4 linked regions of the Homo sapiens genome follow. The protein of the gene in region 4 interacts with the protein of the main gene of each other region in a biochemical or structural test. Each region holds a gene or a part of one and is shown on either strand. Other genes may lie near its edges.

The links.
Region 1: the proteins of TJP2 (region 4) and OCLN form a complex in vitro, tested with the Homo sapiens proteins (3 studies listed by BioGRID).
Region 2: the proteins of TJP2 (region 4) and CTNNA1 form a complex in vitro, tested with the Homo sapiens proteins (2 studies listed by BioGRID and IntAct, with this or other methods).
Region 3: the proteins of TJP2 (region 4) and CGN form a complex in vitro, tested with the Homo sapiens proteins (2 studies listed by BioGRID and IntAct, with this or other methods).

What each region holds. Positions count from the first base shown.
Region 1 is NC_000005.10:69,495,774-69,502,807, forward strand, and holds part of OCLN (occludin), read left to right. Parts: intron 1-7,034. UniProt on the Homo sapiens protein: May play a role in the formation and regulation of the tight junction (TJ) paracellular permeability barrier.
Region 2 is NC_000005.10:138,777,392-138,784,425, reverse strand, and holds part of CTNNA1 (catenin alpha-1), read right to left. Parts: intron 2,504-7,034; 5' UTR 2,502-2,503; coding exon 2,397-2,501; intron 1,250-2,396; coding exon 1,054-1,249; intron 1-1,053. UniProt on the Homo sapiens protein: Associates with the cytoplasmic domain of a variety of cadherins. The association of catenins to cadherins produces a complex which is linked to the actin filament network, and which seems to be of primary importance for cadherins cell-adhesion properties.
Region 3 is NC_000001.11:151,535,377-151,539,216, forward strand, and holds the end of CGN (cingulin), read left to right. Parts: intron 1-223; coding exon 224-307; intron 308-403; coding exon 404-522; intron 523-860; coding exon 861-969; intron 970-1,353; coding exon 1,354-1,517; intron 1,518-1,828; coding exon 1,829-1,970; 3' UTR 1,971-3,316; downstream 3,317-3,840. UniProt on the Homo sapiens protein: Probably plays a role in the formation and regulation of the tight junction (TJ) paracellular permeability barrier.
Region 4 is NC_000009.12:69,169,871-69,177,293, reverse strand, and holds the start of TJP2 (tight junction protein 2), read right to left. Parts: upstream 3,018-7,423; 5' UTR 2,922-3,017; coding exon 2,862-2,921; intron 1-2,861. UniProt on the Homo sapiens protein: Plays a role in tight junctions and adherens junctions. Acts as a positive regulator of RANKL-induced osteoclast differentiation, potentially via mediating downstream transcriptional activity.

The sequences.
Region 1 (7,034 bases), on a different chromosome or scaffold from region 4:
TTTTGTGTGATGGAGTGAGGGACAGGGAGGGCATCTCCCAGAAGGTGACGTCTGAGCTGAGACCTGAACAGCAGGTGTCTGTTGTGTAAAAGATCTGGGCTTTCTAGACAGGAAATTGCAAGATCAATGTCCTTTTTGGATTGACACCTTTATTGTAGACAGCAATTCTCAAAATATGTGATGTGTTTAAAAATCACCTGGAAGATTTATTAAAAATACAATTTCTGACACAGAGTCTATTACAAAATCTGCCTAACTTCAAATTTTTAGACAATTTACTAATGATGTGCCTGTAGTCTAAATCATTTAATATAAGGCACAACTTAAACTTTTTTTTTTTTTTTTGAGACAGAGTCTCGCTGTCTCCCAGGCTGGAGTGCAGTGGCACGATCTTGGCTTACTGCAAGCTCCGCCTCCCGGGTTCACACCATTCTCCTGCCTCGGCCTCCCGAGTAGTTGGGACTACAGGCGCCTGCCACCATGCCCAGCTAATTTTTTGTATTTTTAATAGAGGCGGGGTTTCACTGTGTTAGCGGGGATGGTCTCGATCTCCTGACCTCGTGATCCTCCCGTCTCGGCCCCCCAAAGTGCTGGGATTACAGGCGTGAGCCACCGCGCCCGGCCACAACTTAAACTTTTTAAAGGCAAATTGACAGTTACTGCATGTGCTCTAAAAGGAACAGACTTCTCTTAAATACAATAAAGTTTATTTTTCACTTATTGACAGTTTTCTTTAAAGAATAATTTGAGGCCAAAGCATTTTCAGACTATTTTTTCTTTTTTTATACTTTTTTTTTTTTTTTTTTTTTAAGATAGATAACGGAGTCTTACTCTGTTGCCCAGCCTGATCTTGAAGTTCTGGGCTCAAACAATCCCTCTGCCTTGGCTTCCCAAAGTACTGGGATTACAAGTGTGAGCCACCTTGCCCAGCCTCAGCCTGTTTTTTTCATCTTAGCTTAGTTTTCCATTAAGACAGCTTTTGGTCAGTAAACATTGTCAAGGGGAGAACACTTTATATTTTATCATTAGCCCAAGATGCTGGTTTTCAGATTAACATATTTGACAAGGATCTATCTGCTGCTTCCCTTTTGCCCCCGACTCTAATTTAGCTGTCTGACTTCTGTCCTTGTCACTCTCCTGACATAAGTTCCTGTAGGTGATAAGTGGCCTCTTCATTCTCATTTTTTCCTTCACTCAACACATGTACAGATTGTTAATGTTGCTGTGCTGGGCATTGGTCCTCTTTCACCTTTGGCTGCTGGCCTTAAAGCACAGTCACAGATTCACTTTGAAAGAGACCTTAGAAGTCTTCCAGTCTGGTCTCCAAAAAAATATCAAATAACTTAAGCTTTGCATAAATTGCATGAGCTCAAATTGTTGTTAGTTATTTTCGGAGAGGGTGTGGGGTCAGGGTGAGGGAGAGGCTTCCTAACATTGAGATGAAATCAGCCTGTGGTTTTTGGAATTTTTTTTTTTTAACCATTTCTAGGATAACAAAGACAGCTCTTCATATATTTCAGGGCTGCTAAAGCGATTCTTCTGACGTTAAGTTCTCCAGGCCAAACATTTCCTGTTTTTCCAATCATTTGTCTTAAGACATGGTTTTTCTAGATTTTTTTTTTTTTTTTTTTTTGAGCCAGAGTCTCACTGTGTCGCCAGGCTGGAGTGCGGTGGCACAATCTTGGCTCACTGCAACCTCTGCCTCCTGGGTTCAAGCAATTCTCCTGCCTCAGCCTCCCAAGTAGCTGGGATTACAAGCACACACCACCATGCCCAACTAATTTTTGTATTTTTAGTAGAGACGAGGTTTCACCGTGTTGGCCAAGATGGTCTCGATCTCCTTGTGATCCACCCGCCTCGTCCTCCCAAAGTGCTGGGATTACAGGCGTGAGCCACGGTGCCTGGCCAGCTTTTCTAGATCTTTAATGATCTTAGTCACCCTCCTGGAGAGGCACATAGTTTAGAATGTGATGTACAAATCAGGTTTTGTTTGTTCTTTTTAATAGCATATTATTCCTAGATATGAGCACTATTTCTGTGAATAAAGTTTGGGATAGGTTGTTAGCTTTTGTTGAAATTCTTACCAAAGAAATGCACCTTTAAAAATGAACCACTTTGGGAGGCCGAGGCGGGCGGATCACGAGGTCAGGAGATCGAGACCATCCCGGCTAAAACGGTGAAACCCCGTCTCTACTAAAAATACAAAAAATTAGCCGGGCGTAGTGGCGGGCGCCTGTAGTCCCAGCTACTTGGGAGGCTGAGGCAGGAGAATGGCGTGAACCCGGGAGGCGGAGCTTGCAGTGAGCCGAGATCCCGCCACTGCACTCCAGCCTGGGCGACAGAGCGAGACTCCGTCTCAAAAAAAAAAAAGAACGATTATTAAATTAGTTCTCCTCTATACTGTACTATGGAATTGACTTTTTAAAAATTCAGTTTATGGCTGGGCATGGTGGCTCATGCCTGTAATCCCAGCACTTTGGGAGGCTGAGGTGGGTGGATCACCTGAGGTCAGGAGTTTGACACCAGCTTGGTTAACATGGTGAAACCCCGTTTCTACTAAAAATGCAAAAATTAGCCTGGCCTGGTGGCATGTGCCAGTAATCTCAGCTACTCAGGAGGCTGAGGTGGGAGAATTGCTTGAACCTGGGAGGTGGAGGTTGCATTGAGCCGAGATCACGCCATTGCATTCCAGGCTGGATGACAGAGCAAGACTCCTGTCTCAAAAAAAAAAAAAATCAGTTTACATTTTAAAAATGACTCATTTATGCCACCAATATAGTCACCCTTCAGTATCTGTGAGAGGTTGCTTCCAGGACCCCCATGATACTAAAATCTGAGGATGCTGAAGTCCTTGTTATAAAATAGCTTTGTATTTGCATATGGCCTAAATGCTCTTGTATACTTTTTTTTTTAATTGTTTTTTTGAGACAGAATCTCACTCCATCATCTAGGCTGGAGTGCAGTGATGCAATTTTGGCCCACTGCAAACTCTGCCTCCTGGGCTCAAGCGATTCTCCTGCCTCAGCCTCCTGAGTAGCTGGGATTACAGGCACCCGGCACAATCCCAGTTAATTTTTGTATTTTTAGTAGAGACAGGGTTTCACCATGTTGGCCAGGCTGGTCTCGAACTCCTGACCTCAAGTGATCCGCCCGTCTTGGGCTCCCAAAGAGCTGGAATTACAGGTGTGAGCCACTGCACCCAGACCTCTTGTAGACTTTAAATAATCTCTAGTTATAATACCGTATACAATGTAAATACTATGTAGAATTGTGATATTGTAGTTTTAAAAATCTATTTTTTGTTTTATTGTTTATTATTTTTTTAGACAGGGTATTACTGTTACTCAGGCTGGAGTATAGTGGCATGATCACTCCAGCCTCAACTTCCTCTGCTCAAGAGATCCTCCCATCTCAGTCTCTTGAGTAGCTGGAACTTACAGGGATGTGCCACCATGCCTGGCTAATTTTAAGAAAAATTTTTTGTGGAGATGGGGTCTTACTATGTTGCTGTGGTCAGTCTTGGACTCCTGGGTTCAAGTGATCTTCCTGCTTCAGCTTCCTAGAGTGTTGGGATTACAGGTGTGAGCCACTGTACCTGCCCTGTAATTTTTAATTTTTTTTTCCCCTGAATATTTTCTGTCTGAGGTTGGTTGAATCAGAATTTAAAACCCATGGATGTGGAGGGTCAGCTGTATTTGAAAATGGATACAATATACCTAAGTGCCTAAGCACTGAAATTTCTTACTTTCAGGATAACCACCTTATGATGAATGCAGTTGCCCATTTTCTTGAAGACTTTTTCTTGTGGTTTTTTTCTTTCTTTTTTTTTTGAGCCGGAGTCTCGCTCCGTCGCCAGGCTGGAGTGCAGTGGCGTGACCTCAGCTCACTGCAACCTCCTCCTCCTGGATTCAAGCGATTCTCCTGCCTCAGCCTCCTGAGTAGCTGGGGCTACAGGCGCGCGCCACCAAGCCCAGCTAATTTTTGTATTTTTTTAGTAGAGACAGGGTTTCACTATGTTGACCAGGATGGTCTTGATCTCTTGACCTCGTGATCCACCCGCCTCGGCCTCCCAAAGTGCTGGGATCACAGGCGTGAACCACTGCGCCCAGCTCTTTAAGACTTTTTCTTATCCCAGTGCAGAGGTCAGGATTATTCCCGCATTTGAGTGCACTTAGAGGAGATAAGGAATTTGTCTCAGATTGCGAGCCAGTAAATGGGGGCTGTTAAAACCACTAGGTTGTTTCAAACTCATCATTCTGACATTACAGAGATCTTGCTTAGTGTTGATGGCCCTAGCCAATGGGTTAGTTATCCTTTCCAGTGTGTTTGGTCAGCTGCAAATCTGGATAAGCGTGTCTCCTCCACTTTGTCTGTGTTTACCAGTGGAGACCTCCCACCAGGTGGACATAAATGGTTCATTCTTTTGTGCTAATTGGGTGCCGTAATCCAGCCCCTTGGGAATCTGCCCACCCACACAAGGATGTGCTCAAGATTTTCAGGATTCTTTCTCTCTGCATTCCCTGAAGAGGAAATAATAAAGGAGAAAATAAAATCCACCAGTTTGGTAACCTTCCCAGAAAAGGAAATGAAGTTGGTGTGGCATGACTTGTTCTTAACGAGCTTTCTTTTCTTTTTTTTTTTTTTGAGACGGAGTTTTGCTCTTTTTGCCCAGGCTGGAGTGCAATGGCGCAATACTGGCTCACTGCGAACTCCGCCTCCCAGGTTCAAGCAATTCTGCTACCTCAGCCTCCCAAGTAGCTGGGTTTACAGGCATGCACCACCACGCCCCTCTAATTTTTTGTATTTTTAGTAGAGATAGGGTTTCACCACATTGGTCAGCTGGTCTTGAACTCCAGACCTCATGTGATCCACCTGCCTCGGCCTCCCAAAGTGCTGGGATTACAGGCATGAGCCACATGATTTGGTTCACAATTTAAAATCCGTGCTTTTGGGGAGACGTGACAACTCTGAATCCTGGAAATAGCAGTTTGAAAAGGGATCTTGTTTGAATTTTTGACAACTTAAGACTGAGTCTGGATTAATTTAGAGTTTCCAAAACTACCACTGAACCTAGAATTTGGGGATATTTGACATTCAGCTTCAGAACTAGGATCCCACATTTAATAGTGCTTAACTTCAGATTTTCTGTTTTACTTTTTTTTTTTAAAGGAGTCTTGCTCTGTCACCCACGCTGGAGTGCAGTGGCACAATCTTGGCTCACTGCAACCTCCACCTCGGGCTCAAGCGATTCTCATGCCTCAGTTTCTCAAGTAGCTGGGATTACAGGCACGTGCCACCATGCCCAGCTAATTTTTGTATTTTTAGTAGAGACGGGGTTTTGCCATGATGGCCAGGCTGGTCTCGAACTCCTGACCTAGGGTGATCCACCTGTCTCCACCTCCCAAGTGCTGGAATTACAGGTGTGAGCCACCTCACCTGGCCTAAATTCAGTATTCCTTAATGTTCTTTTTCTGAAGACAATCTGGACTTTTGCCTTTTTATAGTACCATAACATTTTCGCCTAAATTGCTCATTTGTATGTGTGTTTCACCATTACTAGAATATAGAGAAATTGGCCAGGTGTATTGGCTCATGCCTGTAATCCCAGTACTTTGGGAGGCCAAGGCAGGTGGATAGCTTGAGCTCAGGGGTTTGAGACCAGCCTGGGCAACATGGTGAAACCTTATCTCTACTAAAAATACAAAAATTAGCCAGGCGTGGTGGCATGTGCCTGTAGTCCAGCTACTTGTGAGGCTGAGGCAGGAGGATTGCTTGAGCCTGGGAGGCAGGTTGTAGTGAGCTGAGATGATGGCACTGCATTTCATCCTGGGCAACAGAATGAGACCTTGTCTCAAAAGAAAAAAAAAAAAAGTATAGAGAAATTGACTTGAGTGCTAGTTACAGGGCTGTGTACACTTATGATTTGTGCACTTTTCTCTATGGTATACTTTAAAAGTGGCTTTTAAAAATGTAGAAAAGTCATCTTCCTTCATGTCTTTGGAAAATTATGCTAATTGTGTTGGTGTTATTAACATTCTATATATTTCCATCTTTGAGGATTTATCTAATACATAGTTGGGCAGGGTTTAATTCTGAGAGATTTGAAATACACTGTCCTAAAGGGTATAGAAGAGAGTTGCCAGGTGGGGCGTGGTGGCTCATGCCTGTAATCCCAGCACTTTGGGAGGCCAAGGAGGGCAGATTGCCTGAGCTCAGGAGTTTGACACCAGACTGTGCAACATGGTGAAACCCCATCTTTACTAAAAATACAAACAATTAGCCGGGCGTGGCAGCGTGCGCCTGTAGTCCCAGCTACTCGGGAGGCTGAGGCAGGAGAATCGCTTGAAGCCGGGAGGCGGAGATTGCAGTGAGCTGAGATCATGCCATTGCATTCCATCCTGGTGACAGAGCGAGACTCGGCTCAAAAAAAAAAAAAAGAGTTGCCATTAATTTAAAAAAAAGTTTTAAGAGTCTGAATTGATGTACTGTTGTTAATATATTAATGTATGATTGTACAGACCGTATTAGAAAAGGAAAAAAAATCAGATACTTTAATGTACTCATTATAGATGTTACTCAAGTGTCATTCAGGGATCATACCTTTTAAAGTTACTCTGATACTTTTCCGTTACCTTCAACTTGAAAGCACAAGAGGTTTTGCAGGCAGAGATATCCATGGTCCAATCTGGTTCCTGTAAACATTCAACAAATTATCTGGACGTCTACTATGTGCCAGGCATTGATTTAATCAGTGAACAAAACATGCAAAAATTCCTGCTCACATGGAATTTACCTTCCAGTAGATCTCAAAGTTCCCTACTCTACTAATCACTGGTATAACCTGGAAAGAATTTATTGTTGGTTCAACATAGCTAAGGAGTGGCATGAAGTTCTGTAGCTGATGTGGGAAGTACCTTGCCAGTGTCTCCAGCACTGGGTTTTCTAGAATAATCCTCAAGCTTTATAGGTTAGGGGGTTGTGTGTTTACCACATCTTGCTGAGACTTGTCTTTTTCCTGGAGAGCTCTCAGTGCC
Region 2 (7,034 bases), on a different chromosome or scaffold from region 4:
TTATGGGTACTGCCACAGGGATGAATTTGACATAAGACTCTGGACTATGCAATCTACCATCAGGCACGAAAGATCTATGAAGTTCTCCCAAGGGTTAGTAAAGCACCTGTAAATAGCAGGGCTCGATTTACCTTAGCTGATATCCAATAACCTAAAAAACCTACATCATTGTTGAAATTCTCCGACTGGAAAAGAAACCTAACACACAACTACAGGTTTCAAGGCCGGGCACTGTGGCTCATGCCTGCAATCCCAGCACTCTGGCAGGCCGAGGCAGGCGGATTGTTTGAGCTTGGGAGTTTGAGACCAGCCTGGGCAACTAGTGAAACCCCATCTCTACTAAAAATAAAAACTGCAGGTTTCAAGAAGTTTATCTTCCGTATTTAAAGTCTTCCTTCCACATTTGTAACATAATAAGGACAATTTTTCTAGCATTAATTATTAGTAAACTGTGGATTACCATTTTACTTTTTATCAATTCTGAATTTCCCAAAACATGATTCCTTTATACCCAGATTTATGTCAAGCTCCAACCAGTTCAAATATGCATGGCTGATTTAACATACTATTCTGACACAATAGGACAATTTCTAGAGTATTTTCAGAGTAGGTAGATATTTTTCCATTTTATCACACCCATCTCTTCAGCATGAACTAAAAAGAAGTATTACACAGGATGAAAAGTAAACTTCGGTCCCATTTCTTTCCTATCAATTTGTGTTACAACATTTCTAAGACTTAACTATTACTTGAAATACCCAAGAGAAGTGGATTCAGATTCTCCAGATGTCCCTCTGCAAGCATCTCTCATGATTAAAATGAGCCAGTCCAACTTAATACATCTCCAATAACTAAGTTACTGAGCAACTGGCAAGCATAAGAATGAGAATTAAAATATGAGCCAGTCCAACTTAATACATCTCCAATAACTAAGTAAGTTACTGAGCAATTGGCAAGCATAAGAATGAGAATACTGACCACAAAAAAAATCTTCAAACACTGATTTTCTAGAAAGGCCTGCCTCTCTTTACCTAAAAAGCAGTAATGACCTACCTTGTTTTCGAACATCTTCTACAGCAGCCACAAGCTCCTCCTTGAGAAACTGGCTCTCCTTCGCAATTTTATCCCCCTTCTCCAAGAAATTCTCAGTTGCTTGTTCAACAGATGCAGCCAAAACATGGGCCTTCTTAGAACGACCTCTCTTCTTATTAGAGGGCCCTTTACTATTGGTGTTTACAAGGGTTGTAACCTAAAAGTTTCATTTTTAACATTAAACTGGAGTCAATTAAAATGACAAACTAATATCTTTAAAGACAGCAAGATTAAGTTATTCTTTTAAAAAATCACATGAGATTCCACTGAACATTAACATACAATTCCCCATATTTAAGATATACAGCAATGATGCTATATTTAATTTCCAAAATAATTCAGCTTTCTTAATGTGTACAGAGAATTATTTAACACATATTTTAATTTCTCAAATATGATCATTAGGTTTTTAGTTTGATTTTACAAATTAAAAAATGATTAGAGACAAGTTAGATGTCTCTACTATATGTCACCAAGATGTTCCAGAAAGAGGTTAACAATGAACTTAGCTTTATCTGGAGATCACACTGCCACTGTTTTCAAACTTTGCAAAACATTTTAAGATAATTTGCTTCTGAAGTCTTTTGACAGTTTATTCACACAAATCTCAGCAATTAGTAAAGGTCCCAATAAACGAATGATTGCCCAAAGAAGCCTACAGTGATGACGCTTTATGTCTTAGAACATTACCATCATTAATACACATAATACCAGATTATCTCTAGGTTAAAGATGATGAATATATGTTATAGTGTAAATTTGCCAAACAAGACTCATTTTCTCTCTCTCTCTCTGAATCTCTCACATACAAACAATAGACATACTATTGTAAAACACTAAAAGTACACAGCTAGTTGCTAACAGTTTATGAACTACCCTAACATTGTGACATTTGTAGCATACCAAACCTAAACCCTCAAGTTGAATTACCTGCTAATTAATCCCACACAATGAAAGGTGTGTTAAGCAGAGTGAGAGACCTTAACAATCAAGGATCCAGACTCCACCTTTCTTGGGTTTCCCCTCTGAAGAAAGGTGAAGTATCTGCAAAGCACAAACATTTGCAAAGTTGCACTACATACCATGGACCCGTTACTAGCAATAAGACTGAAGAAAACGACAGCAGCAGCGTTCTCAAGGGTTAACTAAACCCATGCATCAATATTCAAATCATCTAAGAACTGTCACCTAAACTCAAGTACTGGAATTAAGGCTTTGAACTAAATAACCTTGCTCTTATGGTTGTTACCCAGGCCTGTGCTATAGAACCATGTTACAATGTATTTGTGTTTTCAGATTCTTACCTGTGTAACAAGAGGCTCCAACAGTCTCTCAACTGCCAGAGTCCTGATCTCTAGACTTTTAGGATCCCACTTGAAGTTTATGTTGCCTGCATGGACAGCAGTCATTTCTAAATAAGAAACAAAAAGTCAGTCAGGCAAACATCAAACACAAACATGAAATATGTAACAAATCTTCTCCTACTTTGGGACTTTTGCATCAGGAAAGCTATATTCACTATAGATGAAAAAATTCTAACTAGCCTACACATGAAGACCCAGTAAACCTTACAACCTCTTAATATTTAATGATTTCAGGCTTACAAATAGGAGGGGTACTACAAGAGGGCATTCCCAAACACACAGAATGTTTCCCTTTGGGCTTCTCTAGCACCAAGACTTCCTACCTCAGTTCCTACTCACTTTATCTGCCCCACCTTTAGAAACAAGATGAAAAGCTAAAGTGAATGAAAGCTACTTTCTTTTTTTTTTTTTTTTTGAGACAGAGTCTTGCTCTTTCGCCCAGGCTGGAGGGCAGTGGTGGATCTCAGCTCACTGCAAGCTCCGCCTCCTGGGTTCACGCCATTCTCTGGCCTCAGCCTCCCAAGTGGCTGTGACTACAGGGGCCCGCCACCACGCCCGGCTAATTTTTTTGCATTTTTAGTAGAGACGGGGTTTCACCGTGTTAGCCAGGATATGATGGTCTCGATCTCCTGACCTCATGATCCACCTGCCTCGGCCTCCCAAAGTGCTGGGATTATAGGCGTGAGCCACCGCACCCGGCCAAAAGCTACTTTCAAAGACACTGCTTCAAAAACGAATACAGAAGATCCTGATTTTTCCTACTCCACAACATTCATGGTACAGTAGTATCTAAAAGGTATGCTTCACTTCATTTTTTGATGGATTCCTAGAGAAGGACTTGTCTTATTCTATTAAAACATAATGTTTAAATCAGCTGCCCTCTGCACCCACAGCTATTATCACTCATAGCCAGAAGAAATTTCAAATCACACTTAGTCAAATATCACTGTATCAGTGTCAAGAGAAACTTCTGTCAGACAGCGGCTTTAAGAATAGGGAGAAAACATCAACGAAAATAACAGTTAGTCTTTTCTTCTAAAAGTAGTGCCTTCAATTATTAAAGAAAAAAAGAAAAGAAAAGGCATGAAGCTGAGGTAAACACTAATATAAACTTTCTAGACAACAAACTGCTGGTAGACATTTAAAAGCTTAAAGGCTGGGCGTGGTGGCTCACTCCTGTAATCCCAGCACTTTGGGAAGCCAAGGCGGGCAGATCACCTGAGGTCGGGAGTTCGACACCAGCCTGACCAACAAGGATAAACCCTGTCTCTACTAAAAATACAAAATTAGCCAGGCTGGTGGTGCACGCCTGTAATCCCAGCTACTCGGGAGGCTGAGGCAGAAGAATCGCTTGAACCCGGGAGGCAGAGGCTGCAGTGAGCCGAGATTGTGCCATTGCACTCCAGCCTGGGCAACAAGAAAAAAACTCCATCTTAAAAAATAATAATAATAATAAAAATTAAAAAAATAAAATCTTGGCCAGGCGCAGTGGCTCACGCCTGTAATCCCAGCACTTTGGGAGGCTGAGGCGGGCAGATCATGAGGTCAGGAGATTGAGACCATCCTGCCTAACACGGTGAAACCCAGTCTCTACTAAAAATACAAAAAAAAAATTAGCCAGGCGCAGTGGCGGGCACCTGTAGTCCCAGCTACTCGGGAGGCTGAGGCAGGAAAATGGCGTGAACCCCAGAGACGGAGCTTGCAGTAGCAGAGATAGCGCCACTGCAGTCCGGCCTGGGCGAAAGAGCAAGACTCCGTCTCAAAAAAATAAAAAATAAAATAAATAAATAAAATAAAATCTTTAAAAAGTACATTTGTATGACCCAGAAAATCTACTGCTAAAATCTTATTCTAAAGTTAAGGAACATGTAAAAACTGGGATACAATGATGTTCACAACACTGCTTTATATAAACATTAAAAGTTATAAATTACCTAAATTTCAAACAACAGATCACTCAATAAATTATGTAACAATGACACAACGGGCTACAATGTTACTCTTAAAAACAATGTTGGCAAATTAAAAAACAAAACAACCAGCCTGGCCAACATAGTGAAACCCCGTCTCTATTAAAACTACAAAAATTAGTCCAGTGTGGTGGTACACGCCCGTAATCCCAGCTGCTCAGGAGGCTGAGGCAGGAAAACCACTTGAACCTGGGAGGTGGAGGTTGCAGTGAGCCAAGATCGCACCACTGCACTCCAGCCTGGGCAACAGAGCAAGCTCTTGTCTCAAAAAAAAAACAAAAACAAAAAAAAACCAGTGTTATCAGTGCCCAAGTATTTATTTCTATTAAATACCATTTGCATGGTGGTTCATGCCTGTGATACCAGCACTTTGGAAGGCCAAGGCAGGAGGATCACTTAAGCCCAGGAGTTTGAGACCAGCCTGGGCCACACAGAGAGATCCCATTTCTACTTATTTTTTTTTTAAAAAACGGACCATTTCCCATTAATAGAAACCAAAGTTCCAGGTCTGAAGCACTGTATTGTGCGGAAAGGGGACAAGACTAACAAGATCATATCAAAAGACACAGGAAGCAAGGGCTCCCATCAGCCAAATTTAGGACAACTATCAAAGAGAATAATGACTGTAACTGTCTGTAACTAAATAATTAAATAAATATCCTTAAGACCATAGGGATCCTCAAAAGAAAGGGTATGGGGAGGGAATTTCTTTACCATGAATCTAGAATAGAATTAGAAAATGACCATCTTGCAACCCCCACTGGTAAAAACTGATCCAGCCAAGGATTAGCAATGAATGTCAAAACTACTGGGTGAAAACTGGCCAGGCATGGTGGTTCATGCTTGTAATTCCAGCACTTAGGGAGGCCAAAGTGGGTGGATCACCTGAGGTCAGGAGTTCGAGACCAGCCTGGCCAATGTGGTGAAACCCTCTCTCTACTAAAAATACAAAAATTAGCCAGGCGTAGTGGCGGTTGCTTGTGATCGCAGCTACTCATGAGGCTGAGCCAGGAGAATCGCTGGAACCTGGGAGGCAGAGGTTGCAATGAGCCGAGATCATGCCACTGCACTCCAGCCTAGGCAACAGAGCAAGATTCCATCTCAAAAAAAAAACGTAACTTTGAACTAGATCCCTCATAAAAGACTACCAACCACTGCCTTCTTCAGAGAGCTTTAGTGGAGATTAGATAGAACAAAGTATGATCCATTGACTAATGCATGAGTCCATGCTAATATGAATAAAGAAGGAAAAGTTCTTCCAAACAATAGGAAACAAACTAATAAATGTAGAAAGAACAATGTATTTAGAAAAATCAGCATTCAGGAACCATAATATTAATTGCCTCAGGCAAGAATCAAAGAATGCTAACCAAGTAGATTAGCATTCAGTTTCTCAGTAGCGTGATCTAGTGTCATAGTAACTCCCAACAGATTATTTATTTATGACAGATGGGGGAAATAGTAACTTCACAGTCCAGAAACCTGAGATGCCACCTTAACCAAGTAATCAAAATTACTGTCCCTAATAAGGACACAAACCCACATCACGTATCTCCTAACACGATGCACTGAGAAGGATACAACATCACCTCTGTGTTATTTCGCCTGAAAATTACATAACCTCAACTAGTCATGAGGCAACATCAAATTCAAAGCGTGAGACGATCTACAAAATAACTGGCTGTAGTCTTGAAAAATGTCAAAGCAGCCGGGCGCGGAGGCTCACGTCTGTAATCCCAGCACTTTGGGAGGCCAAGGCGGGTGGATCACGAGTTCAGGAGATCGAAACCATCCTGGTCAACACTGTGAAACCCCGTCTCTACTAAAAATACCAAAAAATTAGCCGGGCGTGGTGGCGGTCGCCTGTAGTCCCAGCTACTCGGGAGGCTGAGGCAGGAGAATGGCATGAACCTGGGGGAGCAGAACTTGCAGTGAGTGGAGATGGTGCCACTGCACTCCTGCCTGGGCCACAGAGCAAGACTCTGTTTAAAAAAAAAAAAAAAAAAAAAAAGACAGATTAAGAAACATTTCCCCTCCCCCTCTCCCTCCTCCCCCTCTCCCTCCTCCCCCTCTCCCTCCTCCCCCTCTCCCTCCTCTCCCTCTCCCTCCTCTCCCTCTCCCTCTCCCCACGGTCTCCCTCTCCCTCTCTTTCCACGGTCTCCCACTGATGCCGAGCTGAAGCTGGACTGTACTGCTGCCATCTCAGCTCGCTGCAGCCTCCCTGCCTGATTCTCCTGCCTCAGCCTGCCGAGTGCCTGTGATTGCAGGCGCGCACCGCCATGCCTGACTGGTTTTTGTATTTTTTTGGTGGAGACGGGGTTTCACTGTGTTAGCCGGGCTGGTCTCCAGCTCCTAACCGCGAGTGATCCGCCAGCCTCGGCCTCCAGAGGTGCCGGGATTGCAGACGGAGTCTGGTTCACTCAGTGCTCAATGGTGCCCAGGCTGGAGTGCAGTGGCGTGATCTCGGCTCGCTACAACCTCCACCTCCCAGCCGCCTGCCTTGGCCTCCCAAAGTGCCGAGATTGCAGCCTCTGCCCGGCCGCCACCCCGTCTGGGAAGTGAGGAGCGTCTCTGCCTGGCCGCCCATCGTCTGGGACGTGAGGAGCCC
Region 3 (3,840 bases), on a different chromosome or scaffold from region 4:
TTCTTTGGTTTACAAGGGATACTAGTTCCTGGAGGGACGAAGGAGGCTCTGTTTGCATTCTCTGGCCCCTCCCATTTGAATAGGCTGTGATTTTTTAGTTGCCTGGGAATTTTTGGATTCAGGGTTCAGAGACCATCCTCCCATGACTCAGCCTCACTTTGTTCAGCTTGCTGGTTCATCCTTAGCCCTCCCCAAGTCTGGTCCTCTCACCCATCCCCACTAGGTGGATCAGCTGAGGACAGAGCTCATGCAGGAAAGGTCTGCTCGGCAGGACCTGGAGTGTGACAAAATCTCCTTGGAGAGACAGGTGATGGGGGAGGGGAGGATTCTTAGGGATGGACCCCAGGAGGTGAGTAAAATGGCCAGTGGAGTGCTAACTGTGGAGGCTTCCTGTCCCTCTCAGAACAAGGACCTGAAGACCCGGTTGGCCAGCTCAGAAGGCTTCCAGAAGCCTAGTGCCAGCCTCTCTCAGCTTGAGTCCCAGAATCAGTTGTTGCAGGAGCGGCTACAGGCTGAAGAGAGGTGACATAAGCCTATCCTTCCTCCCTTCCTCCCTCCTTTTCTTCCTCCCTCCCTCTTGGCTTTTCTCCTCTGTGGCTCCCTCCATCTTCCACCTCAGATATGGCCAGCCTGGCCTGATCTTTAGGGAACACTTTCTCCTGATAGAGAGCAAAGAGTGTTGCAGAAATTCTGAAATGTGAATGACGTCACTCTCCCTCATTCTTTGAATCTGCCCTGGATCCTGCCCAGTCTAATGGTGGAGCTCATGGCTGAGAGGAGTCCTTGGGGACAGTAGGGGGCCAAGTTAGGATTCCCTTAGAAATGGGGACACTCATAGACATTCTTCTACCTCACCTTAGGGAGAAGACAGTTCTGCAGTCTACCAATCGAAAACTGGAGCGGAAAGTTAAAGAACTATCCATCCAGATTGAAGACGAGCGGCAGCATGTCAATGACCAGAAAGACCAGGTGAGGACATGGCACCCTGGAGCCAAGCAACCTGGGGCAGGTATATATTATATGTTTTCCTGAAAGCCAAGGGAGGCCCTTATCTCCTATAGGTCCTCCAAACTTAGACTTTCCTTGTATAAGGACAGAGATTAGATTGAAAAGACTAGACTAGAGAAGTCATGGTAAGCGTATATATTGAGTGCTTATGATGTGCTAGGTTCTGTAAGTATTACACATGTGTTAATACATTTAATCCCTAAGACAACCATGTGAGGTTAAGGAACTTGCCCAAGGCCACATTTTTCCAGCGGCAATTATACCTTGTCAAGATTGTTATGGGGGAGGGTCCCAGGCCATGGTAGTAGATGCTATTCAGATGTGTGGACTTGGTATCCTGCCCAGCTAAGCCTGAGGGTGAAGGCTTTGAAGCGTCAGGTGGATGAAGCAGAAGAGGAAATTGAGCGACTGGACGGCCTGAGGAAGAAGGCCCAGCGTGAGGTGGAGGAGCAGCATGAGGTCAATGAACAGCTCCAGGCCCGGATCAAGTCTCTGGAGAAGGACTCCTGGTATGGGCTACCCTTTTGCCCTTGCTCCATAGGGACACTAGAGCAGGGAGGGAATGGTCTCTCCTGTGCTGGATAAGGAGGAGAATCTCTAACATGGTACTGTGTAGTCACTTGTTTCTGGTTGGAAGCCAGTATATTTATTTATTAGTATCTCAGCCACCATCCTGTACCTCCCCAAATCTGATTAGTTGGGGATTTTGTGAATAAACTTTAGGCCTTAGAAGAATTGGGGTTTCCTTTGTACAAAAAGGGTGGCTGTCTTAATATTTCTATTTTCCCCTCCCCAACCATTATTCTTCTCTCTGAGTCAGGCGCAAAGCTTCCCGCTCAGCTGCTGAGTCAGCTCTCAAAAACGAAGGGCTGAGCTCAGATGAGGAATTCGACAGTGTCTACGATCCCTCGTCCATTGCATCACTGCTTACGGAGAGCAACCTACAGACCAGCTCCTGTTAGCTCGTGGTCCTCAAGGACTCAGAAACCAGGCTCGAGGCCTATCCCAGCAAGTGCTGCTCTGCTCTGCCCACCCTGGGTTCTGCATTCCTATGGGTGACCCAATTATTCAGACCTAAGACAGGGAGGGGTCAGAGTGATGGTGATAAAAAAAAAAAATCATCAGCAATAAGCTGATAGATGGACTTTCCACTGTAGGAGTGGACATTTCAAGCCAACTGAGCCTTTTCCTCAAGTGCCGACACCTCCCTCATCTCTCTTATAGTGGAAGGATGGTCAGCATTAGGCTGATGGGGACTGAGAAGGATAGGAAGGGATAGAAATTGCCATGTGTATAAAGCTTTATTCTTTAGCCCTTAACCCTAAGGCTCAGGGAAATACCCTATGTTATTGTGCTCCCTGGATTCCTGCAACTCATTTTCCTTCCACTCTGGAGCAGGGTGAGGGGAATGTTATGGGTAACAGACATGCAGGCATGGCTCTACCCATTTCTTTGCACAAGTATGGGGCCCATGTGGTAGTCCCCATACCCCTCCAGTTCCTATATTTTTGTCTTCTTCCTTTCCCCTCTTTGCCATTCCTACCTTGCATTTTTCCTGTCAGTGCCTTAGCCAAGGCAAGGAGATAAGGATGCTCTTCTTGCTTTTTATATCTGCACATTCATACCTCTCCAAAGACCAGCTTTTCCCCAGCCAGGGCCCTCAGCCTTCCCTGCTGCCCCAGTGATTGATTGAGAGAGCTGTTGGGGTTTCTCTGCCAATGACCCCTGGGAGAGGGACTTTGGTAGGGTCATGATAAAGTGGCGGGGGTCTGGTCCTGCTCAGGGTTTTCATCCTTCCTCCTCTCCCTCCTCTGTGACTGTGGATATGGTTATAAGGTGGTTGCACCTGGGAGCCCTGACAACTGGCTGCACAAATTCCAAAAGTAAAGGTGTCAGTCCCTGTGGCCTTCCTTGGGGCTTCTCTGACCACATGTGCCCAACTTCAATAAGAGAACCAAGGGACCCTCATTTTCTGAGGTGCTTGGCTCTGATTCAGGGCTTTGCAAGGGGTTAGAAGCTGACTGTAAAAATGGGAAGAGGCAACGGAAGACATTTATTTCTCCTTTGGATTTTGGGGAGAACCAAGCCCTGGTAGGGAAGAGGTAAGGGGGATGATTCACCTCCATATTTCCTAAGCAGGTTGTATAGGGAGCCGGTGGCAGGAGGAAGGCTGTTTTCACAAATGACTTGTAATGTCGTGATTAAAAAAATTCCTATATTCTTCTGCAAATCAAACGTTCTTTCCCAATCCAATCCAGCCTTGGTTTTATTTTAAATTAAATATTAAAATTACACATTTATATTGAAATCCTTGGTTTGTCTTCTCATTCTTTTTCTTGGCATATTTGGAGGTCCAGATTTTATGAAGTCATATTAACTGTACAGCTTAGGAGCCGAAGCTGGAGTTTTCTTCACCTGACTTTTCAGAGGCCCTTTAGAACAGAGCAGATGGGACCTACGAAACCTGGAGATGTTTATAGCAGCCCCATTCTCTTCTCTCCTGAACAACCTTCTGGGAAGAACAAGGACAGTAAATGCCTTTTTTTTTTTTTTTTTTTTGAGACGGAGTCTCACTCTGTCACCCAGGCTGGAGTGTAATGGCATGATCTCAGCTCACTGCAACCTCTGCCTCCCGGGTTCAAGCGATTCTCCTGCCTCAGCCTCCTGAGTAGCTGGGATTACAGGCGCGTGCCTCCACACCCAGCTAATTTTTGTATTTTTAGTAGAGATGGCGTTTCACTGTGTTGGTCAGGCTGGTCTCAAACTCCTGACCTTGTGATCCGCCCACCTCGGCCTCCCAAAGTGGTGGGATTACAGGCATAAGCCACTGCG
Region 4 (7,423 bases):
AAACTGTTCTGCTTCCCTCCACTCCCATCTGGGGCAATCTCACCCTCAGACACTACCATATACCAAATCACCTTCTCTGGAAAATCAAGGCTGGTTGGTCCAACAACTGTTGGGCCCCTGATTACTGCTTAGAGTCAAATCAATGAGGCATGTTATTGGGAATCAGCTCTCAACCTAGATAAATTCATCTGTAGCCACAACTGCTTAATGGGATTCGTTCTAGAGATGAGGCAAGGAATTCCCTGGTGGCTCATATTGTTGGTAGAATATGTTGAAAGTTTCAGCAGTGATTGCGAACCCTTCTACCGCTTCACCCCGCCCCCACCACACCCAAACTTCATGCCTCTCCCCAACCAAGTCTGCATGACTTTTTAAATTACTATTTATATTACTACACATATTATTGTACACAGGACTAAAGTGGCCCCGCCTAGTTTCAATAACTTGTGTCTCGTAAAAAGATAACCTTCTTAAGGAGAGAAAACCTTGCTAAACTCAAAATCTCCCTTGCCTTCAGCAGTATGCAGAAAGTTCTCACACTTGTCCTGAAGAGAAATGGTTGGCTGTGAACTTTTGTCAGTGTACAAAGAACTAGATCAAAAGTTAAATGTAGGCAGAAGTCATTGCAAATGCAATTCCCCCGGGGGTGATGTAAAAATTCATTGGTCTTAAGCCTATGAATGCCTCAAAAATAGTTATGGGGTGGGATGTTTACTGGGAAACTGGTTCGCTTCTTTTGTAGGGAAAGTCAAGTCATTTAATACATGAGGGATTTCTGACTTCCCCCCACCCAAAGCTTCGTTATGGCCTTCAAGGCCTTTTAACAGAGTGTGAACAACAACTCTTTCAGTTTTTTCCTGGACACCTACCTGGCACCTCCTACTTGTATCTTTAGATCTCACCTCCCTTATCAACCCAGGACCCAACACTTAAGAGTTTTCAGCACCCGTTTTGTTCCTATTACTAGCTACCACCATTTACGTAGCATCCACCACATGCCTTGTACTCTCTGTCATTTCATTCAGACCTCACTCAGCCCGGTGAGGTGGGCGCATTACTGGCCCCATTTTCTATAGTGGCTTGCTCGGGTGAGGTAACTGTTCAAATGCCCTTTATTCCCAGCAAGAATCCCCTGAAGGGAATGCATATAGGACCAATCCCACTCTTTGCTAAATTTCTGTATTGCAGAGTGTGCATCGGCATCATACATTCCCTCCCTCAGTCTCAGGAATCCCGACACAGATTGCAGAGTAAAGTCTAACAGTTTCAGGTCCACTAGACCCCTAAATGCAGAAATTGAATCTTGTTCATCTTTGTATCCCCCACAGTGACTGGCAGGAGTAGGGGCTCATTCAGTATTATAATATCTGGATGGTACTGAAAAAGTTACAGCAGCATTTCAGAGGGGAAAGTTCCCCTTCATCAATCTGCATAAGTAGCTCTGAAAAGAAATAAAGTGGCCCCACTGCAGAAGTAGTTCTGAAAAAAACACAAGAAACACCTCAAAAGCCACCGGTGCTTTAGTAAAGCACCTCCGCTTCTGCCATCTCCCCACAATGAGGAAGCTCCAGTACCCTGTCCACATTTCTAAATGGCACTCATCGGATTCTTAATGAGTTGCAGGCTTTCCCAACGGGACTGTGTGACAGAGCCACGCTCTTGCTCATCTGCGTAATCCCCACACTGAAGTGGAGTTGTTCATGAAAACTTACTAAATAATCAAATTTCATCCTCTCAAGCAGGATATGCAGTGGTACTTTGCTACAAATACATTTACCACTACGAATTTCTCACTTCAAGCGATCTCCTGCCCAGGTGTGTGCTCTCAGAAAATTACATCTCTTTCTGAATTACGCTGGCAAAGGTGGACCTGTTTTCCCAAAAGGACCGTCAGCACACCCAGCACAGACCACCTGGGGAGCTGAAGAAAACGACCTCCCTCCCTCCTCCCCGCTGGGATTCCCCGGGCTGAGAGCGTGAGTGAGAAGCGCAAGGCAGTTTCTATCATGGGATGACTCTCCGCTGGGAACTTCAGGGAAACCACAACCATCATTACTCAGGCCAGACAGCTGCCAGAAAAGCAGCCTAGCCTAAGAACTGAAGCTGAAATAGAGGTGGGAGGCTGTATTCCATTACTAAGCGCGGGAGCACTCACTCCCAAGTTTGTCCACATTTCAAGAATGTTAAAACCCTGTGGTAGAAATCCCTGATTATTTATAACTTAAACTACCGTGTAAAAGCAGAAACTTGACAAATGAAGACATAAAAAGAACTGGTGACAGGTAGGCTAGTACTAGAATACAAAGCATTCATCACACTCCTCTTTTGTGGGTCCTTCCAAACCTCCATCCCCATTCCCTACTGGAAAAAAAAAAAAAAAAAAACAACTTTTACTTCTATTACAGACGCAGCTGATTGAAAGGGAAAAGGGATTCTGCTCTGTGATGAGTTTTCAGTTTCTCTCACGTACACAAGCCTGTAACTTTGCATCAATACCGAGTGTGGTTTGAAATAGAGAAGGAAAACACAAAGACATGCAAGCGACACAACAGACACGAGATGCCTCCAAGCCAGCAGAAATCCAGGACACCGGGTTCAAGACAGTGTCCCCTACTCGCGCCTTAATCTCCAGCCCAAGTGACTTCAGAGTAAAGGTTCCAGGAGCCCCGGAGGCCACGAGTCATCAGCCCGGACGGTGAAACCTACCCCTCCCCTGCGTCCCACGTCCGGATGGGAGAATCCCAGCTTCCTACGGCGCATCGGGGAACAACTTCAGAGCAGCACGCGAGCAGAGCCCCCAGCGCTCCCACGCTCACGCTCACGACCCTCCTCCCAACCGCGCGGCACAAGGAGGCACTTACGCGGAGCCAACCTGACAGCTCCCGCCGGGGTGGAAACCCGCGGTCTCCTCGCACCGGCATTTCGGACACAGGTCCCGCGTAGGCGCGCAGCTCCGGACCCCGCTTCTGCTTCTGCTCCTGCTCCTACTCCTCCTGGGCACCACCGGACAGTGCTCTGACCCGCAGCCCAACCGCCGGGGTGCCGACCCGCGGGGACCCACCCCTTTGTCCCTCCTCCCGCGGCGGCGGCGGCGTCAGCCCGCCCCCGACCCGAGCGTGGCGCCTCCGCGCTGGCCGCCCGGCCCGGGAAACTGTCAAATTGGCCGCTACCACCCACGCGCCTGCCGGGGAAGGGCTCGCCGGCGCCGCGCCTTCGAGGCTCCTGCGGCGAACCGCGTCACGCGCGACTCCTGGCCGGGGGCGGGAGGCGGCGGCGGCGGCAGGAGAAGCCCAAGGCCCGAGCGGCCCGCAGCCCCCACGCCTGCACCCCTCCACCCCCGCCAGCCCGATGGTTCGCTCCGCGGCGTGCACTGGAGCAAGCAGGTCCCGCTCCGAGCGCGCGCGCTCTGGGAAGTGCTGCAAGTTTGGAGACCTGGAGTGAGCTCCGGGCGCTGCTGGCCCGACTGTCCGCGGTGTTTCCCCGGTGAGGTCGCGGGGGCATCCTGTAGGAAGACTTTTTGGCGAGGTTCGCAGGGCCTCACACAGGCAGCTTCAGTTCTCCTACGAAGAGTCGAACTGGGAAAACCTCAAAGTTTTAGGTCCTGTCTAGAGGCCTGCCCGGCTAACCAACACATACACGGCCTTGTACCCCACATTTCTCAGCCCAACAACTGCCTACCCGAATTCCGAGGGTTATAAGATGTTCGTATTAAATATTAAAACAGGACTTTTCAGGACAATATATTCCAGGTTATCTCTTTGGCACATTTCCAACAACTCCAATAAAGAGATTGAAACTCCTCTCCCATCATCAGCTTATAAAAGGTTGCCAGTAGGTCACAAGTGCTTATCTGACAGGATTCATCTAATGCAATTCAGTGTGCTTATTCCTTTCGAAGTCCTCCATGTGCAAAGAATTGTGCAGTGACGTTAAGTGTCTTTATTTTAAGAGCATATAAATTAATTTGGAGAATCCAAACAGGTACCGATTAAAAATATAACCTTGGGTTTGAAATCTTAAAAAACCATCTTGTAAGAGAATAGTTTTGCCTGCCCTGCTCTTCCCTTAATTGGAAAGCAAAACTCGTCCTAGGCTCACAAGTAGAAGGTAAAAGGTGTGGTCTGTCCCAGAGGAGATGCAGATGCTGGGCTCTCTCCCTGAAAAGTTGCTTCACTTCCTGCCTGATCAAAACAAGTCTAGAAGTTTCGTGGAAAAACAAGTCCAGTAGATGCCTCTCCAGAAGTGTTATGCTTCTGGACTCCTTTGGAGTAACTAAGTCCACGCCTCTGGATAAAAAGCACTGTGAGTAACGTTTCCCACTTTGCCTCGAGTCTCCGGACTTAGACATTTTGGTTGTATTCCTGATGTAAGGCATTGCTCTCCTGATCTAAGCACCTATTTATAAAATGTTTCCCAAATCTGGCCAGGCACGGTGGCTCATGCCTGTAATCCCAGCACTTTGGGAAGGCAAGGCAGGAGAATCACTTGAGCCCACGAGTTTGAGACCAGTCTGGGCAACATAGTGAGACCCCATCTCTATTTTTTAAAAATTGTTTTAATCAAAAAAAAGGAAAAAAAAATAAAATATTTCCCAAATTAGGTGGTGCTGACTAATAAAAATGATAGCACTTGAAAGGTGGCCACACCTTAATGATGTGGGCTTAGAGCCACTAACATTTAAAAAATAATCCAGAATGTGGCAGTTACATCTACTGACTGATTTCCTTTTTTCTCTCTAGAGCGGCACTGTTCAATAAGATGACCACTTGCCACCAGTAAGTGTTTACATTTACATGTAAATTAACTAAAATTAGAGGAAATGACAAATTCAGTTCTTCAGTCACACTTGTCTCATTTCAAGGGCTCAGAAGCCACATGTGGCTAATAGCTACCCTATTGGACAGTGCAAATATAGAATATTTCCATCAATGCAGAAAGTTCTGTTGGACTGCACTACTCGAAATGATGAAATATTTATAGACAAACTCCATTCTTCTGGCACAACACCTGACAGATGATAAGCATTCAGTAAATGGTTGTTAGAAACACGGTTCAGTTGATATATTAGCTTTTTTGCTGGTGGCAGTGTAAATCAATACAACTCTTTGGAGAAACAATTTATTAGTCATCTTCTTCACGTGTGGGTTTGCACATTTTGACCCCACTCCTAGAATGTGTTTATCCAAAGAACTTCTACTCCGCAGGGCGCGGTGGCTCATGCCTGTAATCCCAGCACTTTGGGAGGTCGAGGCGGACAGATCGCGAGGTCAAGAAATCAAGACCATCCTGGCCAACATGGTGAGACCCCGTCTCTACTAAAAATAACAAAAATTAGCTGGGCGTGGTGGCGCACGCCTGTAGTCCCAGCTGTTCAGGAGGCTGAGGCAGGAGAATCGCTTGAACCCAAGAGGCGGAGGTTACAGTGAGACGAGATTGCACCACTGCACTCCAGCCTGGTGACAGAGCGAGATTCCGTCTCAAAAAAAAAAAAAAAAAAAAAAAAATTCTTCTACTCAACAGGTACTTACTGAACACCTCTGTCAACCCCTTGATAAAATACTCAGGATCCTGCCTTAGGAAACTCAGTCTATTGCAGTAGACAATCAACAAGTAATGATAAACTGTGTAAGCACTGAGATTCCTGGCAGGCTCAGAGTGGTCTAGCAGGAGAGACTTAGGGAAGGCTTTCCAGAGATGGGGTTGCTTATACATTCTAAAGGAGAGGTCGGAATGAGTTTTTAAGACACAAAGAAGGAAAAAAGCCTTCCAGGTAAGGGGAATAAATAACACAGAGAGAAGTAAGGAAGGAAGAGACAGCAGGCTTACTCTTGAGGTGCCAGAAGGTGAAGTTGCCCAGGCAAGTATAAAGATGGATTTGACAGTTGGTGGGGGACAGGGGTTGGTGGGGGAGGAGAATGTTAGTAAGAATGACAAGACCGGCCAAAAATGCATTTTTGTGGGAATGCAGGTGAGAGATGACGTGGCTATGAAGTTAGGCAGTGTTAGACAAAAGGGAGCCAGATTCTAGAGAAACTAAGGAAGTAGATCAGCAGGCTGGATGACTGCCTGACTAGATATGGGGAGACGCGAGCGGGAAGTGAGCCTACGCTGACTCTCAGGTTTCTGGCTTACTTAAAGGAGATGACGGTGGCTTTTATCAAAACAGAACACAGGAGTGGGAGCAGATCTTGGGAGGAGCTTGAAGAAAGATGATGAGTTTAGTTACAGACTGATTTTCAAGTGCTATGGGTCATCCAGGTGAAGATGTTCAGTAATTTAACAAATATGTATCAAGTGTCTCCTATGTGCTAGGCACTGATGAGTATTTGAGGAGAGAGATTTGGGAGTGATTTGGGTATCATCAATGTATCATAAAAGTTGAAGTCTTGGGAGGGGACAATCCCACATTCAGAGACGTGATGTAGATTAAGCCAAGAGAGGACTAAGGACAGGACTCATCTCTGGGAATGCCAATATTTAGGGGGCAGACTTGAGTTGCCAGAACAGAGACCAAAGAGGAGCTGCCAGAAAGGAAAGAAAACGCTTCTGGAGGAGAGTGTCCAAAAAGCCAAGGAAAGAACAAACTTCAGGAAAGAGGGAGAGGCCAACAACATGGAATTTCGAGGAGGTCAATTAAGGTAAGAACTGATGATGTTCATTAAGTGGAGGACCACTGCTTATCTTGGCCAGAGCTTTTCAATGGAAAGATACGACTGGAGGTTAGATTACAGTGGATGACTAGGTATGAGGCAGCACTTCACTATATGCCTGTATCTAATAATGAATGATGGAAACCACCAATGTCCAATGATGGTGGGCTGGGCTATTAAATTACAGTAAATCAACATAATTGGCATAGCAGACCATCATTTAAAATTGTAATAAGGAAGTCTATACAACAAGGAGAATGATAATGCTATAATTATCAACAAAAAAACACAAATTACATCTAATGTATGATGATGACAGTGATAAAATTATAAAAAAAATAAAAACTGGAAAGTATGCAAAAAAATGACTTCATGAAAAGACAGGCTTGTGCATATATTTTTCTTTTTAAATTTAGTTATTGTTTGTGCAATGGACAATTTTTTTCAACTTTTCAGTGTATATTACAATATATAAGGTCTCTGAAATAGGTTGGTCAGCTAGGTGCAGGGGCTCATGCTTGTAATCCCAGCACTTTGGGAGGCTAGACAGGAGGATTGCTTGAGCCTAGGGATTTGAGTCCAGCCTGGACAACATAGTGAGATTCTGTCTCTACAAAAACTAATAATAAAATAAAATTACCTGGGCATGGTAGCATGTGCCTGTAGTCCCAGCTACTCGAGGACTGAGGGGAGAGGATTGCTTGAGCCCAGGAATTTGAGGCTGCAGTAAGCTATGACTGCACCACTATACTGCAGCCTAGGTGACAGAGAGA